Linked DNA regions of Homo sapiens. The protein of the gene in region 1 purifies or fractionates together with the protein of each later gene. This does not show direct contact. Each region holds a gene or a part of one and is shown on either strand. Other genes may lie near its edges.

Region 1 (4,427 bases):
GGGAGTCGCCTCTGCTGGTTGGGGAGGGCGGCAGCTGGGACAGAGGCAGGGCCTGCGCGGCGGCGGGGAGGCGGGAGTGGGCCGGGAGGAGCGCCTGGGTCCAGCGCCTGGAACCCGTCGGTGCCGCCGGCCGCCCAGCTGGGCAAGGGTCCGGGGCGCCCACGTGGTGGGAAAGTTTCGAGGTAGCAAAAGTAGCCCGGCATTGCGGGGGGTGGGAGGGGAGAGGAGGGGAGGGGAGAGGGCCGGCTCGCCCCTCCTTCTCGGGAAGGCAGAAAGGAAAAAAGCGGTGGGAAGCAGGGGTGAGCGCGGGGAGCGGGCAGCCCCAACCTGAACAGATTCCGCTTTCTCCTCCTCCCCCCACCCCGGGAAGCTCGAGCGGGGAGGTACGGACCGTCTCCTCTCGCACGGGCAGGACGACACCCTCCCTCCCCCCCTTTTTTCTGCCAACGTCTATCTCAACGCGCGCGCACATACGGAGATTGTGCGGCTTTTTTCCCCCTTGGGAGAAAAAACGGGGAGAGTAAAAGAAGAGAGACCAAAGAGAAGAACTCCTCCTCGGCGAGCTCCGCACTCCGTGCCGCGGCCCGGCGCGGGGACGCCGCCGCCGCCCGCCCGCTCTCTCCCGGCCCTGCGGCGGGTGCCAGTACGAGCGCGAGCGAGGGCACTGCACCCGGGGACGCTGCGAGACTTTTCGGCGCTCGAGCCGACCTCGCCGCCGCCGCGGCAGGCAGAAGAGACAGGAGCGAGAAGGGCCCTGCCTCCCCCTCGCCTTCCTCGCCCGGCGCCCCGCGCCCGGCCGGGCCGCGCAGGCAGGCGGAGGGAAGGAGGGAGGCTGCGAGGAGGCGGGCGGAGCAGAGGCCCCGGCGAAGCGCGCTGCGGCCGCCCGCCCGTGGATGCGGCGCCCAGGGATCCTGGAGACAACTTTGCCGTGTGACGCGCCGGGAGGACTGCAGGGCCCGCGGCCGAGGGCTCGGCGCCGCCTGTGAGCGGGCCCGCGCGGCCGGCTCTCCCGGGCACCAAGCTTGCTCCGCGCCACTGCCCGCCGGCCCGCGGCGAGGACGACCTGCCCGTCTCCGCCGCCGGCGGCCCTTCCTGGCGCGAGGCAGTGAGGGCGAGGCGCTCAGGTGCGAGCGCGGGGCCCCGCCGCAGCGCCCGCCGCAGCGCCGCGCCAAGCCGCGCCCGGCTCCGCTCCGGGGGGCTCCAGCGCCTTCGCTTCCGTCTCAGCCAAGTTGCGTGGACCCGCTCTTTCGCCACCTTCCCCAGCCGCCGGCCGAACCGCCGCTCCCACTGACGCTGCTTTCGCTTCACCCGAACCGGGGCTGCGGGGCCCCCGACGCGGAAAGGATGGGGAGAAGGCTGCAGATGCCGAGGCGCCCCGAGACGCCCGTGCGGCAGTGACCCGCGACCTCCGCCCCGCCCGGCGCGCCCCTCGGGCCCCCGGGGCCCTCGGCGCCCCTTCCCTGCCGCGCGGGAACCCCCGAGGCCCGGCCGGCCCCCTCCCCCTGCGAGCCGGCGGCAGCCCTCCCGGCGGGCGGGCGGGCGGAGGCCCGGGCGGGCGCGGGCGCGGGCGGGGGCGGGGCGGGGCGGCGCGCCCGGAGCCCGGAGCCCGGCCCTGCGCTCGGCTCGACTCGGCTCGCCTCGCGGCGGGCGCCCTCGTCGCCAGCGGCGCACCATGGACGGGCTGCCCGGTCGGGCGCTGGGGGCCGCCTGCCTTCTGCTGCTGGCGGCCGGCTGGCTGGGGCCTGAGGCCTGGGGCTCACCCACGCCCCCGCCGACGCCTGCCGCGCCGCCGCCACCCCCGCCACCCGGATCCCCGGGTGGCTCGCAGGACACCTGTACGTCGTGCGGCGGCTTCCGGCGGCCAGAGGAGCTCGGCCGAGTGGACGGCGACTTCCTGGAGGCGGTGAAGCGGCACATCTTGAGCCGCCTGCAGATGCGGGGCCGGCCCAACATCACGCACGCCGTGCCTAAGGCCGCCATGGTCACGGCCCTGCGCAAGCTGCACGCGGGCAAGGTGCGCGAGGACGGCCGCGTGGAGATCCCGCACCTCGACGGCCACGCCAGCCCGGGCGCCGACGGCCAGGAGCGCGTTTCCGAAATCATCAGCTTCGCCGAGACAGGTGGGTCCGGCCCTCCGGCTGTCTGCCGCGGTCCCCGCTCGCTCCCGCTCTCCCTCTCCTTGCTAGCTCCGGCTGCCACCGCCGCCACCGCAGCCCGCGCGCCCTGGGGCAGCCTGGACTCCCGGCAGAGCTCCTTCGGCCGTGGCCCTGCGCGCTCCGCCCGGGTTGCAGTCCTCTTCCCCCAGGCCGCAGACCCTTGCCTGCTGCCTCAACCCCCCGCCGCCGATCGCCTGGCCCTCCACCCCTGCTCTCCGGAATCGGGCCCCAGCGCCTCTGGGCGCGCGTCCCCCTCCCGGCAGATGCGCGCGGCCCTGGCTCTGCGGGCACTTGCTTGGTGATTGCTTAATGTTTTTGTTTCCCACGATCGGAGTGTAGGCTTAGCAGTGTGGATGGAGATGTGTGTGCTTGTTGATATACGTGGGCCGGAGGAGAGAGAGAGTGTGTGTGTATCTGTGTGTGTGTCTGTGTGTGTGTGTGCCTGCGTGAGAGGCCCCTGGGGCCGCTTCCATCACCGGCGGCGTGGGCTTGCCAGGATTGCTGAAGCCTCGCTGGGGAGAGCTAGGCAACCTCTCTTCCGATTGTGTGGGCACCGGAATCGGGCGGAAGGCAGGCTTCTCAACAGGTCCATCATTTACACAGAGAAAGCCGCGGTTCGGGGACAGCCCCGTGCCTCTCGGCTTGCCTGGCAGCTGCAGCAGACCCCTCGCCCGAGAGGCAGAGTCGTAGTTAACAAAGGGTATGGCTCCTTTCTGGAATCCGCCCCCCCCCCCGGCCCCAGATTGCAAATCTCTAACACTGTCTAAATATAAAAATCAGGGAGAGAAAAATCTTTCGGAACTTTAAAAGAAGGAGAAAAATGTGCCCGCGCCAAAATGCTGCAAGTGCTTTCGACTCCGCTGTCCTTTTCAGGACTTGAATGAGCCAGGCTGGCTTTTGTGCCTGGAGCTCGGCCCCATTTGTGCCGAGGGGACTGCGGAGAAGGTCGCAGAGGGGGAAGCCCCGGTGCAGTTAGGGCGGGGGCAAGCGGGGAGCCTCGGTGGGGGGAGCGGTTGTGCCCCTGGCTGCAAATGCCCCCCACCCCACCAGGCAGCAGGCAGCCCGGGGATGAAAAGGGATGAAAAGTTTTGCATGGCCGGGTGTGGAGAAAAGCAGAGACAATCGGGGCTGGTTTGTGCTTAGAAAGAAATGCATTGCCGTTTTAGCTGTCCACTAAAGTGAGTCAGGGAAAGCTCGCCATGCAATTAGAGGGCTCGGATTAAAAGGTGCTTTGGGGCCCAGAGTTAGAAATGTGATTCTGGAAGGTCGAGGAGGCCTTTTGGTCCCGGTGGCACAAAATGACAGCGGGGGCTGTTATATTTCTGGTCCGTTTCACGGAGCCAGCTCTTTGACTTATAAATAACAGATTCAGGTCACAGGCAGCTCGTCCAAGACCAGCTTTTAAGGCTGCAGTTTCCCCCATTTCAAAGTCAGATGTCAGTGTTATTAGAGGAGCCAGGCGAGGCCTGAGGTAGGGGCTTGGGAGGGGCATGGTGGGAGGTTTGATAAAACCAGCCCTGACCACAGAGTTTCATTATTTGTTCTTCCTGAAAAAAAAAAAAAAAAAAAAAAGGAAAGAAAAACGTAGATTGTCAGAGGCAAGGGTCACCGGAATGTAGGATGAGAGGGGAGTCATCTCTTGATTGGCACAGCCTCCTTCTTGTTGAGCTGAATTATTGAGAAAATTAACTAGCCAGCTCCCCTACTCCTTGGGGATTTTGAACGTGCCATTAACAGGGAGCCAGAGTCTTGTCAAAGGATTGGACCTCAAGTTTTAAGGCTGAATGTCCTGTCCCTTGAAACTATTCTATAAGGGCTAGGCTCTGCAGCCTGCAAAGCACACGTTCCTATGTCAGAAACCTGAGCAGAGCCTGCTTGTTTGCAGTGGAGGTTCCACTGGGGGTTGGATCACATCATACTTAGGTAAACACTGGAAAGAGGCGGTAGGTGGCTCAGCTTGATTTTGCAATGCGCTAAGTTAACCAAAAAAAAAAAAAAAAAAAAAAGCCCTACTAAAACCACCCACCCCAAAATCCTCCCTGCGATCCTGGTTTTGTTTTTCAGATTTCACAGATACCCATAACAACTTGTTAAGATCTTGGCCCCCTGACAAGTTCTTCTGTTGTGCTTTGAGGCCTGACAGCCTGTCTCCAGGGAGCCCTGGCCTGGGAGAGGTGAGGCAGGATTTTATAGGCGCGGACCCTCCAGCCCCAGCCTGGTCCGGGTTTCTCAATGAGAAACGATTTTCTCTGCCTCTCCCAGGTTACAGTC
Region 2 (3,804 bases), on another chromosome or scaffold:
CAGTATGCCAGCTGAAACAAGAAGGCAGGGTGTTGCCTTGTTTGACCTCAGTTGGGAATGCATGTGGTGGGTGTTTCAGATGTTTCACTATTCTGTGCATGGCTGTCAGTGAGCAGGAAGGTACCATGAATGTTGATATTGGGGTTACAAATAAATTTGCATTAACCATATTTTGTTAGAACTGTATACAAAAGTGGTAGAAATAAAATTGTAGAATTTCACTAAACCAGAATTTTAATACATGTAGTTAGAAGTCCCATTTCCAGACTGCAAACTAAACATATGCATGTTGAGTACCTACCATGGTGATCTAGGGCAGTGGTCCCCAATCTTTTTGACATCAGGGACTGGTTTCGTGGAAGATAATTTTCCCACAGGGGAAGTAGGGGAGATATGATTTTGGGATGAAACTGTTCCACCTCAGATCATCAAGCACATCAGGCCGAGGTGGGTGGATCACCTGAGGTTGGGAGTTCAAGACCAGCCTGGCCAACATGGTGAAACCCCATCTCTACTGAAAATAAAAAATTAGCCGGGCATGGTAGTGGCAGCGCATGCCTGTAATCTCAGCTACTCAGGAGGCTGAGGCAGGAGAATAGCTTGAATCCGGGAGGCGGAGGTTGCAGTCAGCCGAGATCACGCCACTGCACTCCAGCCTGGGGAACAGAGTGAGACTCCTCAAAAAAAAAAAAAAAGAAAAGAAAGATCATCAGGCACATCAAGCATGTTAGATTCTCATAAGGTGCATGCAAGCTAGATGCCTCGCATGCGCGGTTCACCGTAGGTTTCCCACTCCTATGAGAATCTAATGCCGCCGCTGATGTGACAGGAGGCAGAGCTCAGGTACCCGCCTGCCACTTACCTCCTGCTGTGTGGCCTGGTTCCTAACAGGCCGTGGACCAGTACCGGTCTGTGGCCCCAGGGGTTGGGGACCCCTGATCCAAAGGGTCCCTTGACACATATTTATTGAGCACCTGTCATATACTAGGCATTGTTGCAGGTGTTAGGGATACAGTAGTAAACGAAAGGAGACAAAATTGCCTTCTCTCAGAAAGCTTACCTTCTGCCAGGTGAGGTGGACAATAAACAAAAGTATAAAATGTAAAGCAGTTGTGCCTACTACAGTCCACCTTCTGCTCCTCACTTCCCCAAGATTCCCCATGTTTGGTGTACACACACCTGCTTCAGGTATTCAGTCAAATGCTAGTCTTTGTAGATAGAATTAAGGTCTCAATCAGTTGACCTTTAGCCATCTAAAGGAGGTTATCATGGTGGGTCTGTCTTGATTGAACTAGCCCTTTCAAAGCAGAGAGATTTCTCAGCTGATTGCACAAGAGGAAATCAGATGTTCCAGCTGGCTTGGAAGCAAGCAGACGTCCATGTTGTGAACTGCCGATCCCAACAGCCACATGGCAAGGAACTGCAGGCAAACTCTAGGAGCTGAGAGTGGTTCCCAGCTGACAGCTAGGAGGAACATGGGGACCTCAGTCCTTCATCTGCAAGGCAGTGGATCTTGTCAACAACCAGTAAGCTTGGAGGAGGACCCAATCCTAGATGAGAAGGCAGCCCTAACTGGCACTGTCGGTGCTGTGCCTGGACTTCTGACCTGTAGGAACTGTGAAATAGTAACTAGGTGGTGGTTTAAAAAATGTATGCATTGGGTGGGGGTGAGTCAAATGGTGATGGTGAAAATAGGTAAAGCAAGAGAGGGGAATAATGAGAAATACCCCAAGATAGGCATGAGGGTACTTGAGACCTGGTGCCCAGCCATCCCATCACTCACATATAAAAATAAATCCTTTGACCACATGTGGCTTTCATCTGACTATAACTTTTTTCTAGATATTTGTGAGTGGAGGGGAGAGGGGATTGTGGATGCTTTGGAAATAAGTTTTTTAGGTGCTTGGGATGTTTGAGTTGAGGAATCTGGGAATTGAAGTATTTTCTGGGTTTTTTTTTTTTTTGTGGTAGAGGACTCACCTTGCCCCACATCCTTGTATATTGCTTTGGTATATGTTTGCATATTACCTTTTATACCTGTAGAAGATAAGATTGAATTGTAATCAGTCAGTGTTCATTTCTGATATCCAGGATGTGCCTAGCACCAAGCTGAATGCTGAGAGGGATCCTGAGGAAAGAGTCTGTCCTTGCCCTTTGGAAGTTTACACACAGAGACCGGCCACAGTGGCTCATGCCTGTAATCCCAACACTTTGGAGAATGAGGTACAGGGGATCGCTTCAGTCCAGGAGTTTGAGACTAGCCTGGGCAATATAGTGAGACCTCGTCTCTACAAAACATTTTTAAAAATTACAAGGGCTTGGTGGCGTGTGCCTGTGGTCCCAGCTACTTGGGAGGCTGAGGTGGGAGGATAGCTTGAGACCAGGAGATTGAGGCTACAGCAAACCATGATTGCACCACTGCACTCCACCCTGGGTGACAGAGTGAGATCCTGTCTCAAAAAAAAAAGTTTACACACAAATGGACTTTTTTTCTGCTTGTTGGAACTACCACAAACTATGAGGAGTTCAGGTGACAATTGTAATAAAAGCATCTGATTTGCTGAATGTTTACTATATACTAAAGTATTATGCTAAGCACCTGTGTTGTATCATTTACTCTATGTAGTTATTCTTTGAGGGGCTAGGGGCTCTTATTCCCATTTTACAGATGAGAAAACTAGGGCATAGAGAAGTTAAGCAGTGGGTCCAAAGTCTATCCAAGTCCAAAACATGTGCTCTAAATATTGTACTGTGCTATAAACTGTGAGTACTGTAAAAGTGACCTTCTAACCAGGCTCTCTGCCTTCAATCTCCCATTTGTTTTCCATCCTACGGCTAGATCTAACTTTGGAAATGCACCCTGTTTGTCTGACCTAGAGGTTGTGTGGCTTCTAGGATCAACTCTAGACCCCTTAGCTTAGCATTGCAATCAGTTTCATCTGGTCTTAGTCTCCCTGACTCTTCTTGCCTTTGGCTGGAACCTTGGCATTGTTCGAACTGTCAATTTACTCTGAACCCAGTGTAGCTAATATTTTTTCACAGCCCTTTGCTTTCCCTTTTCCTTTTCTCTGGAATGCTTCTCCCCACTTCTCTTCCTAGCCAAACCCAGCGTCCTCCAGTGTGGACCTTCGTCCTCTTGTGTTCTCCCGGTCAGTGATTCCATCCTCTCTGCTTTTCCCCTCAGCCTGTATTGGTAGTTGGAGTTGCACTGTTTATAGTTGTCTTCTCCCACTCTCCATGCCCAAAGAATTGGTGCGGGGAGCTGGCTTATTTGTTATATGGCTTCGGCCTGCACAGAGCCTTGCATGTTTCAAGTACTTAATAAGTTTGTTTAATTGAATTAATTCATTTCTTTTCCATCCTCTCAGTAAAATCCTAGGTAAATAATTCCAATTCTGTTTTGCTCTAATGTTATTATAATCTTGTATATATAGTATTTTAAACCTACTCAAAAAATGCCGCAAACATTTGTGAGTTACTTGGAACATCATAATCTCTCTTTCTACCTCACCTCTTTCATCTCTGTTTATCCTACCACCTACCCATTTTATTCCAGCCAAATGAACTTGATCTCTCAACCTCATTAGTTTTATTCTCAGTTTGGCTGATTTCTTTTTTCCTTTTCCATTGTCCCAGTTGCCTGAAACAATCATTCCTATCCCTCTTCTCACTCAAAACTGTGACATACACGGTCTCCTCTCCATTCGTCCATACTATAATAAATAGGTCAGGAAGAAAATACCAGGGATAAATATCCTTCCCTGCTCTATTGAGCCAGAAGTATGTTTATTCAGACTCAACAAA

Evidence for each region.
Region 2: the proteins of INHBB (region 1) and ACVR1B purify together in Homo sapiens (affinity purification with western blotting, with the first as the bait; one study listed by BioGRID). This does not show direct contact.

What each region holds. Positions count from the first base shown.
Region 1 is NC_000002.12:120,344,517-120,348,943, forward strand, and holds the start of INHBB (inhibin beta B chain preproprotein), read left to right. Parts: upstream 1-1,619; 5' UTR 1,620-1,672; coding exon 1,673-2,120; intron 2,121-4,427. Other genes in the region: translation initiation factor IF-2-like, read left to right, coding at 371-1,398. UniProt on the Homo sapiens protein: Inhibins and activins inhibit and activate, respectively, the secretion of follitropin by the pituitary gland.
Region 2 is NC_000012.12:51,957,965-51,961,768, forward strand, and holds part of ACVR1B (activin receptor type-1B isoform a precursor), read left to right. Parts: intron 1-1,295; exon of another isoform or gene 1,296-1,526; intron 1,527-2,091; exon of another isoform or gene 2,092-2,223; intron 2,224-3,804. UniProt on the Homo sapiens protein: Transmembrane serine/threonine kinase activin type-1 receptor forming an activin receptor complex with activin receptor type-2 (ACVR2A or ACVR2B).